Linked DNA regions of Homo sapiens. The protein of the gene in region 2 purifies or fractionates together with the protein of the main gene of each other region. This does not show direct contact. Each region holds a gene or a part of one and is shown on either strand. Other genes may lie near its edges.

Region 1 (3,655 bases), on a different chromosome or scaffold from region 2:
CTAACAGCAGAGGGATTTCTACACCCAACACCCCACCACCTCAGTCCCCTGGGTCTTATCCTTCCAAGGTTCTCTGTAACAACATGCTCAGTACTATATCAAAGCTTACATGCAATAAATACCCAATGATGAGGATCATTGATCCCATTACCTTTGTAGGCACCTTAACGTCCTTCTGAAGGATGGAAAGATCTGTGTAATAATCTTTGATGTCTTCTCTGAGCATTTCAACACTTATAGACATGGCTTCATCTAGAGCCTCATAATCATAAGACGAAGATTTCCTTATTCTCTTAAACTGCTTATTCTGAAGCTGTTTGAGGTAGTACTCCCAGCGATTGGGAAAATCACGTAAAAGTGCACCAATTAAAGATACTACAAGGGGAGAGCCTTTAAAAAAAAAATGAAGTCACTATGCTAATACCATCCTATTTTGTCACTAATAAGAATCGACTTACTTACTTACATTACTAAGAAACAATTTCTGCTGCATGTTATCAAAAGCCTTAAGTATTTATCACTCTTGACTTCACTTCTAGATATTTATCCCAAAAAAAATTAGAAATAAGAAAGATTTCATTCAGTAAGTTCCTGATTATCTTTATTAAGTCAAAATAACATAGATCAAATCTGGCTAAGATGTCATTACAAAAAAAAAAAAAAATATATATATATATATATATATATGCGCCAGTCTAAGCAATATAATGAGACCTTGTCTCTACTAAAAATAAAAATTAGAAAAATCAGCCAGGTGTGGTGGTGTGTGCCTATAGTGCCGGCTACTTAGGAGGCTGAGGTGGGAGGATTGCTTCAGCCCAGGAGGTTGAGGCTACGGTGAGCCATGACAGCACCACTGCATCCTAGCCTGAGGAACAGTGTGAGACTCTGTCTTAAAGAAAAAGAAAAGAATGATTAAGTTTAAGGATATTCATCACAGCACACTTAGAATAGTGAAAAAATCTTAAACAACGTAAACAATGTCCAATAATACAGAAGTGGTTGAATAAATTAAGATATATCAATATTATGCCACTGGTAAATTTTTTTCAAAAAAATATTTAACAACATGGGAAAATGCTCAAGATATAGAAAAAGGGTAAGATCCAGCTGGGTGTGGCGACATGTGTCTGTAGTCCTAGCACTTCAGGAGGCTGAGGTGGGAGGATTGCTTGAGGGCAGAAGTTTGAGACCTGCCTGGGCAACATAGTGAGACCCTGTCCCTACAAAAAAATTTAAAAATTACCCAGGTGTGGTGGTGGGTATCTGCAGTCCCAGCTATTCAGGAGGCTGGGGCAGGAGGATTGCTTAAGCCAAGACATTCAAGCCTGCAGTGAGCTGTGATCTTACTGCACTCCAGCCTGGGTGACAGAGCAAGACCCTGGCTCTTTAAAAAAAAAAGGGCAAAATCCAAAACCACATATACATAATCTCAACTTTTTAAATCTTTGTTCTAAAAGACTGGAGGCAATACTCTCATGATGCTAATAATTATCAGGTTATGGATAATTTCTATTTTTTTTTTAGTTTCACACATTTTCAAAATGGACATGCATCACCCTTTGTAATAACTACAAATTAAGCATTTTTTCTAAGTGTAAGATTTCTTTAAAAATTAACAAAACTGGCCACGTGTGGTGGCTCACGCCTGTAATCCCAGCACTTTGGGTGGCTGAGGCAGGTGGATCACGAGGTCAGGAGTTCAAGACTACCCTGGCCAAGATGATGAAACCCCATCTCTACTAAAACTACAAAAATTAGCTGGGTGAGGTAGCACGCACCTGTAATCCCAGCTACTAGGGGGCTGAGGCAGGAGGATCACTTGAACCTGGGCAGCAGAGGTTGCAGTGAGCAGAGGTCGCACCACTGCACTCCAGCCTGGGCGACAGAGTGAGACTCGTCTCAAAAAATAAATAAAATAAATAAATAAATAAATAAACAAACAAAACTGTGTGTCTATTTGATGGCAGAATGAAAAATAAGGTGGCCAGGTATGGTAGCTCATGCCTATAATCCCAGCACTTTGGGAGGCTGAGGCGGGCAATCACCTGAGGTCAGGAGTTCGAGACCAGCCTGACCAACATGGCGAAACCCCGTCTCTACTGAAAATACAAAAATTAGCTAGGCATGGTGGAACATGCCTGTAGTCCCAGATACTCGAGAGGCTGAGGCAGAAGAACTGCTTGAACCTGGGAGGCAGAAGTTGCAGTGAGCCGAGATCACGCCACTGCACTCCAGCCTGGACGACAGAGTGAGACTTGTCTCAAAAGAGAAAAAAAAAGAAAAAGAAGAAAAATAAGGTATTTCCAAGCATAACAATAATGAAAGAAATAATTTTAAGAGTTGATAGATTTGACTGTTTAAAATTTTAAGCTTCTATATGTCAAAAGAATACAACAAATAAAAGGTACACAAAAAACTGGGTAACAGGCTGGACATGGTGACTCATGCCTGTAGTCCCAGTGCTTTAGGAGGCTAAGGCAGGAGGATCATTTGAGGCAAGTAGTTCAAGACCAGCCTGGGCAACACAGCGAGATTCTATATATAAATTTTAAGTTAAAAAATTGTTTTACTGGGAAATAATACTTGTAAAAATATGACAAAGAGCTAATAGTTTCTATTTTTTGAGTATTTAGAAATAAATTAAAAATACTTATATCAAAAAAGAAAAGTGAGTCAAGGATAATTTCTTAAAGTCAAGGATAACTTCTTAAAACGTATTCAATAAACAAGTAAAAAGTTTAACTTCGCTAAAAAAAAATGCAAATTAAGACACCAGTTTTTACTTACCAAATTAGAACACTATTTTTATAAAATCCCAAGCAAAAACAAGTTTTAAAATCTGATTCTCACTCTATTTTTAACTCTAACAGCAGAGGTCACATCTGTGTCTCACTTCTCTCACTAATGTGGTCTCTAACACACTGTGGGTAGATGGTAAATATTATTTTAATGAATAAATAAATACCATAATATCATGTATCCATTTAAGATATCAGAGAACCTAAAATACTAAATCTCCCAGAAAAGTTTTTGGATGTTCATGTGCTAAATTACCATATTCATTAGCTCAATTAACAAAAGGGAAATTATATAACTCCCTATAATCTCCTCATAAACAAATAAATAACCATACCTTTACATTCTTTTATAATACTATGAGCTTGTTCTGGCAAATCTGCCTTCTTCATATTAACAAAAAGGGATAAAATTTCAAGTCCTTTTTCCTTTCCTAAGGAACTCTCCACAGGGACTACATATTTAGGACCTGCAAACAAAAATCACAAGACAAAGTAAGTAATTTGGTATGTCACATATTTAAATGTAATTAAATTAAATATAAAGGTACTAAAAAGTAAACGAATAATCCTTACCCATTACTGAATCTGTAACACTCTTGTCTCTGGTTGTAAGAAGAATCTGACACTGACTGTCAAAAGCTTTCAACACCCAAGAGTCCCAAACATCATCCAAGATCAAGAGAGACCTAATTTAAAAAAAAAATATTAATCACTAATGACACTTATCTTAAGCTTCCTTTTAAAAAGATAATCCCACCAGTGTCTTTTAAAATCTACCAAATTAAATTTTTTTTAAAACAAATAGATGGCTAGATCTAGGAAAATGATTCTTCCTCTTTGCTATACTCTTCTCA
Region 2 (3,655 bases):
TCACTCCCTTCCTCATGGGACCAGGAACCCTTTCCATATCAACTACTTGCACTGCAATTAGATGATCAGGTCAGCAACTGGGAAACCCACCTAAGAGAGCGGCTCATGCTTATCCAGGCTTACCAAGGCACCGTGCTAAGCTCCGCACCAAGATCATCTCATTTCATCCACCCACCTGCCCTTGGGATGAGATAGCTTCTATGATTATCCCATTTCACAGATAAGATAAATTAACTGACCTATGGCATTGCCAGGCCTCAAACCGAGTGGGCCTCAGCCTAATATCTGTGTTCTCAACCACTGAGATATTAAGCAAGGCTTCCATTGAGCTTCTGGGCAATCATTTTCCCTCCTTCTAGCTTTGGACTGACTTCCTCTGCTTGGGTGCACATATAAACAGGAGATGCAGCAGTTGGCTGCCCCAAAACAAAGGGGCATCTTGTGTACAGGTGGAGCTGTGCAGTGGTGCAGTGTTTTAAGCATTGCCTTCATTCCACTCATAGGATATCGAAGGCCCACGTGCCATGTATTCACCTCCTGTTCTTTGCTGGACAGAATGCCTCGCCCAAGATTTAATTTTCCTTCATTCCTCTGCTCTCACATTTTGTGTGTCCTGCCCTTGCCTGCTAGGCCTCAGTGCGGTGGTTCTGGATCCTCCTAAGGACCAAGGCATCTGAGTTCCTCCAGCCCTCCAGGTCCACATGTCTCCAGATAGGAGGGTGTGAGTATGTGCTTCTGTGAGTCTCAGTTCAGAAATCGGCTCTAAGTGACTTGCCTGATCTTCCCAAATGCAAAGACCTACTTAAGACCCTTTCAAAAGAAAATCACTAGGCTTGTTGGCTCTGGCTTCAGAAAAGGGGCCTGAGCAAGAGTTCTATCTGTTTGATTTGTCTCCATTCAAAGCCACATTCTCAAGGTTATAAAGAAAGGATTTCCCAGATTGTCATTGCTTTCATTGATTGCATTATCACCTGAGCAGTATCTTGCAGAAACTATAGATAGGAGTTTCAGTAATTTCTAAATAGCTTTTGGTGTTTTATAACATCAGAAGATAAGCTTGCCATTTGTAAACATGCGCTTGGACAAACAACATACACGCATTCCTTAGGAGGAAAAGAATCTGTTTCTGGGCCTGGGAAGGGTGGTGTTCCGCCTCTACTAAGGGTCAGTTTCAACACTGGATTGTTGGGAAAGAGTTTAAGCTGGAAAAAAGATCTCGGTTTCAATGATCTTCTTAAAATCAGCCACCCTTTGAGCATCTATTAAAAGTTCAAATCACGGGTTGCAAATGAAAAAGCCAGAGGGACAAGGCAAATTAAAAAAATAAAGCAGTGAAGAAAACAGTGCAAGGGCGCTGATAAAAGAGGACCAACATTGGACATCCACTGAGGAGGTCACAAAAGTGCTATGGACTGTGTAGCTGACTGAGGTCCCAGACCCCATCTAAAGGAGGCCACCCCTTTCTGGAATGTGGGTCCCATGTGACTGGCTCTTCTGAGTCTTTTCAAGAGAAGCCCAACGTTTAGATTTTTATGTACTAGTATCCAATTTTTAAATGTTGGGAAATCATTCAAATATTCATAATGCTGTATGGACCCAACAAAACAAAGCCATGCCACGGTTTGTCTCTCCTGCTATGGACCTTCCTTCAAGAAAAATGCCCCCTTGCACATATAAATACAATTTGACATCATATTTCAGGCTTTTGTGGATCAGGGATCTCAGGTTTTTTTCTGTTTGTTTTTGTTTTTGTTCGAGACATATCACTTTGTCACCCAGGCTAGAGTGCAGTGGCATGATCTCAGCTCACCACAACCTCTGCATCCTGGTTTCAAGTGATTCTTCTGTCTCAGCCTCTCGAGTAGCTGGGATTACAGGCATGCACCGCAACACCTGGCTAATTCTTTTTGGTTTTTTTTTTTTTTTTTTTTTGATTTTTAGTAGAGACAGGGTTTCACCATGTTGGCCAGGCTGGTCTCAAACTCCTGACCTCAAGTGATCCATCTGCCTTGGCCTCCCAAAATGCTAGGATTACAGGCATGAGACACCGTGTCCAGCCCGTAGTCAAGTTTTGATTCTTAAAAAACAATCTTGGCTGGGGCTGGGTGCAGTGGCACACGCCTGTAATCCCAGCACTTTGGGTGGCCAAGGTGGGTGGATCATCTGAGGTCAGAAGTTCGAGACCAGCCTGAGTAACATGGTGAAACTTCGTCTCTACTAAATACAAAAAAATTAGCCGGGTGTGGTGGCACATGCCTGTAATCCCAGCTACTCGGGAAGCTGAGGCAGGAGAATCACTTAAACCCAGGAGGTGGATGTGGCAATGAGCCGAGATCGTGCCATTGCACTCCAGCCTGGGCAATAAGAGCAAAACTCCATCTCAAAAAAAAAGTATATATATATATAGGATCAGGTCATTCTCATCTTGAACCTTGGACATGGTTTCCCTGGGACATGTTCTGACCTTCCCTGTGAAAAATATCTACAAACAGTGACTGCCATTCTTGCCTCTGCTGTACTTCCATCTTCCTACTCGGGGACCACATGCTACTCCCAGCATCTTCCCTTAAATCCTTACTGGGATTTTCTTTTTTTTGACACAGAGTCTCGCTCTGTCCCCCAGGCCAGAGTGCAGTGGTGCGATCTCGGTTCACTGCAAGCTCCACCTCCTGGGTTCACGCCATTCTCCTGCCTCAGCCTCAGTAGCTGGGACTGCGCCTGCCACCATGCCCGGTTAATTTTTTGTATTTTTTTTTTTTAGTAGAGATGGGGTTTCACTGTGTTAGCCAGGATGGTCTCAATCTCCTGACCTCGTGATCTGCCTGCCTTGGCCTCCCAAAGTGCTGGGATTACAGGCGTGAGCCACTGCGCCCGGCTGGGATTTTCATCTTTAAAGCATCCCTGGTGAAGCTTTGATTTCCAGTGCTTGCAAACCCATCTGAAAGTGCCAAGATGTGGTCCCCGGTCTCTTCCCTCTGTGTGGCCCTTGGGTGTTGGTGGCATTTAGATGTTGATCAAGTCATGCCTGGCCCTAGCTCTGCTCTAGAGGTTTGGATCTGTATATTCCATCCTGCTCACAGCGTCTACTTGCCTGCATGGACTTTGGATAGAGTCACCTGGAAATGACCAAAGATACACATATGCCATCCCTCCTTCTTTGCAGAGAAGACGAGAAAGACCTTTGCACTGATCTGCACTCTGAGCCACTGCCATCTGCTCATTGAATGCTACCCCTCTCTTAGTGGCAGTGAAAAGGCAGAAGGAGCCACACCTGGCTGGATTTGTGTTTGATCTTGGCTTTACCCTTTACTTGGTGGATCTGTTCCTACCTCTCCATTCCTGCCATCACTTAAGGATCCCCTACTACGGATGGGCTAGGTGTCTTGCTAATTCACAGACATCTTATTTAATCCTCACGACAAAGCTATGATGTAGGAACATATCTGAGCCCCATTTGCCAGATGAGGAAATGGGGGCTTAGACAGTTTAGTAACATGCCCAAGATCATATACTTGGCGAAGAGAAGAGCCAGAGCTTGAATCCTTCGTGTTAAGCTCATACCTGTGAGTTCAGCCAACTAACCAACAGCTACTTTTTTCTTCTTGATCTATATGGGTCATGATAATCCCCAAGCCGGGTCACTGAGTGGCTTAGA
Region 3 (3,655 bases), on a different chromosome or scaffold from region 2:
CTGTTATTCTAATGGTAAAGAAACACTGTAAAATGTCAGATGGTGATAAGTAGGGTAAAGGGATAGAGAGTCATGGGAGGGTACTGTTTTAGTAATCAGAGAATATTATTCTGAGGAAAGGCCAATTGAGTAGACTTGACATAAAGTGAAGGAATGAGCCAAGTGAGTTTTTAACCTAGTAGCTATCCATGAGAATAATTGTCCAGGTCTCATCCACTAGAGTCATGACTTTAATTGGTTTGGGATGACATTGTCCATGTTTCTTTCTTTTTTTTTTTAAGTCCCCAAGTGATTCTGATATGTAACGATGCATTATAGCCACTGAAAAAGATATATCTCTAAAATAGAGACAAGTTAACTGTTTTACCAGTGCTTATTAAGAATATCATTTCCAAGTATTTAATATACATTTCTGGTTCTTCATTGTGTTAAATTCTTGGAATGTATCAAAATTCCCAAGCAGTGAGATCTACGGAAGAGAATAAGCCACTGCTAGACATAATGCTTCTAACTTCTTGGACAGGCCTACCACTATATTATACAAGGTGTAAGACCTTTACCTTCTTCAAGTCTATCATCAGCAGAAGCCCAAACTGCCTCCTTTCCTTCACATTGGATAAGTCTGCTTGAGCAGAGAAGTAAGAGTGAGGAAAAGGGAGGATTTTCTTCTCCCTGCTCTCACAGAGGTTCATAAAAGTATCATGGACAGGAAGATTAATATATTCTGCCCAAACTGAGATATTAAAGCATTCTGTATGCTCACATCATGACCAAACTTCTTAGAAATTACATATGCGTAATAAAGTTCTTTCAGTCTTTCTGTAAAGGCAGTAGAAAATTTGGAGTTCCAAAGAGGGTACTGTGACTTATACCCAAAGCTATAAATGTCATGTAAAATCACAACTCACTCTGGTAGCTGGAAACAGTTATCAAACAGAGTTTAGAATTAATTTACCAATTACTGTCTAGCATCCCTTTTCATCCTAAAAGATAGCAGAGTAATACCAAGGCATATGGTAGACCAAAGATATTTGCTGAATGAATGTATCAAAGAATGCTTTAGAAAGGATCGACAGAAAACCAGTAATTCTCATATACTATTAACAATGTATTACTTAACATGTTTTCAAAATGCAAAAATAAAGTAAATTCTTCAGGAAAACTGAGTTAAATTCTGATTTACCTTTTTTGCTCTTTCAGAAATGGTTGGTGCTCTCTGCAATGTTTTTTCTTGAAGAAATTCTTTATTCTGGAGAGGAAAAGTAAGTATTTTGTTCTTACAAGTTTTTAAGGTACCAAAAAAAACCCACAAAAAAGTTCACCATAATCAAAATGTGATATAGTAACTGTTCTGTAATGAAGTGTGAGAAAAACTTTCATTCTTTCACTCTGAAGCTCCTTTAGTATGTTACTACCACAGTTTCATAAATTGAGGCAGAAAATTAAGATGTAGTACACTGTATGAACCACTGTCTATGAAGAGTTTGCTGTACTGTATGTTCTTTGAGATCATGGTCCTACATTTCCAACTACAGTAACATCCTACTATCTGATATATTTGGGAAATGAGATGTTTACAAATTCAGTAGTAAACCTTAAAACCAGAGTTCGGTATTTTTCACAAATTATATTTATAATGGCAAAATTTAATAATCATTGTTCCTATGATCAGTTTAACCTAATATTTAAAAACGGATTTACTAAATTCTGAAGCAATTATCTTAATTATCAAAGACTGTATACATAGTGCTTTCTGCAATTATTTTATCTACCATCATTTTTCCAAACATAATCATCCAACTTCTAAGCACTGAACATAATCTGAGTAATTGAGGAGCATCCTATGAACACACATAATCAAAAGCTGGAATTTCCTACCTTTGCTTTCTGGAAAAATTTGTGCCTTAATAGTTCTGCTGCTGTTGGTCTAAAACCAGGAAGGGAGGGAAGAAAAGTTTTTATAATTAATTCAAGTGTAATGTCAGATTCCATCATCAAAAATGAGAAAAAATTTTTTTCAACAGCAAAATAAAAACTCAGTATACTCTACTTTCCTTAAACTGCTAAAAAGCAAAAGTAAAATAAACTTGATACAGGACATTGAATAAAATAAAAAACTCAAAACAAATATTCTGATAATTATTGTAGATTCTTTGAAAAAATCATTAGTGAAATGTTTTTTCTGGAAGCATGATTTCTTAATAGAGTCTAATATATTTGCTATTTAATAATATTAATTTAATATTTAATATTATTTCCCAATAAGTAAGCTAGAAAATATCTATCTAACATTTTTAGCAAGGCATAAAAATATATTTAAACACACAAAGAGGAAATGGACCAAATCAAGACCTCCACTTCTTGCCACATGGTAGCCTGCCAGCCTTCAATTTAGGTAACCACAGATCCCTAAAAACAGATTTCACAATCTCCCTTTAAAAATGAAAATTCTAAAAGTATATTCCCCAAATTTAACAAAACTCAGTGTTTAACTCATTTCTTCATGGTCTTATTTCCTTTTAAGTAAAGACACGACTGTCAATTTTACAAGCTTTTAAAAGAGTATCATTCAGAATAAAGAATTTAACATTTAAGAGACTGGACCTGATTTTGCCACACACCTACCTGATCCTGAGCAAATCACAACCTCTCTAAGGTTCAGTATTACTTGGCCAAGCCCCTAAGTTCTTAAACACTGCTGTGCATTGAACTATCTGGGAAGAATGTAAAAATCCCAATGACCAGAGGGCACCATGGCTCATGCTTGTAATCCCAGAACTTTGGGAGGCCAAAGTGGGTGGATCACGATATCAGGAGTTCAAGACCAGCCTGGCCAATATGGTGACACCCAGTCTCTGCTAAAAAAACCACAAAAATTAGCAGGGCATGGTGGCGTGCGCCTGTAGTCCCAGCTACTTGGGAGGCTGAGGCAGGAGAATTGCTTGAACCCATGAGGCGGAGGTTGCAGTGAGCCAAGATTGTGCCACTGTACTCCAGCCTGGGCGACAAAGCAAGACTGTCTCAAAAACAAACAAACGAACAAACAAAACCAATGACCAGGCTGTACCTCAAACCAATTAAAGCAGAATCTTTAATTGGCTTTAGTAATGTTTAAAACTCCCCAGGTAATTCCAATAGGCATTCAAGTTTAAGAACCAGCACCTCAGATGATTATTATAAAGATTAAAAAGCTGAATAAATGTGAAAGTGCTATGCAAACTGAAATCCTACATTATCACTCTTATTTTTTCATATGCTCAACAATTGCTTCTCAATATGCTCAACAATGTGATTGCTCAACATTGCTTCTTATTATTCATTCCTTTCTTCTGACTTCATTTCCTTCTTTCTAAAGTACAACTTATGGGTTCTTTAAGTGACAGAACGTGACTGGAAAACTCAATTTCTGTGTGCAAAATAATTTCATGCTCATTCTTGAATGATAGTCTGACTAGCTGGAGAACTCTGGGTTAAAGTCACAGTCATGAGCCTCTTAATGCTTTGGCCAACAATATACTGTGTATCTGACAGTAGTCAGAGCAACAGGCTACACTAAATAGCCTAGGCATGCAGTAGGCTGTACCATCAAAGTTTGTGTAAGTACACTCCACGATGTTCAAACAATGACAAAACTGCCTAATACACATATTACAGA

Evidence for each region.
Region 1: the proteins of BANF2 (region 2) and APAF1 purify together in Homo sapiens (affinity purification with mass spectrometry; one large-scale study listed by BioGRID and IntAct). This does not show direct contact.
Region 3: the proteins of BANF2 (region 2) and OXSR1 purify together in Homo sapiens (affinity purification with mass spectrometry; one large-scale study listed by BioGRID and IntAct). This does not show direct contact.

Annotation. Positions count from the first base shown.
Region 1 is NC_000012.12:98,662,288-98,665,942, reverse strand, and holds part of APAF1 (apoptotic protease-activating factor 1), read right to left. Parts: intron 3,488-3,655; coding exon 3,375-3,487; intron 3,269-3,374; coding exon 3,137-3,268; intron 893-3,136; coding exon of another isoform or gene 864-892; exon of another isoform or gene 585-863; intron 391-584; coding exon 152-390; intron 1-151. UniProt on the Homo sapiens protein: Oligomeric Apaf-1 mediates the cytochrome c-dependent autocatalytic activation of pro-caspase-9 (Apaf-3), leading to the activation of caspase-3 and apoptosis. This activation requires ATP. Isoform 6 is less effective in inducing apoptosis.
Region 2 is NC_000020.11:17,706,324-17,709,978, reverse strand, and holds part of BANF2 (barrier-to-autointegration factor-like protein), read right to left. Parts: intron 1-3,655. UniProt on the Homo sapiens protein: May play a role in BANF1 regulation and influence tissue-specific roles of BANF1.
Region 3 is NC_000003.12:38,227,959-38,231,613, reverse strand, and holds part of OXSR1 (serine/threonine-protein kinase OSR1), read right to left. Parts: intron 1,928-3,655; coding exon 1,879-1,927; intron 1,250-1,878; coding exon 1,184-1,249; intron 1-1,183. UniProt on the Homo sapiens protein: Effector serine/threonine-protein kinase component of the WNK-SPAK/OSR1 kinase cascade, which is involved in various processes, such as ion transport, response to hypertonic stress and blood pressure.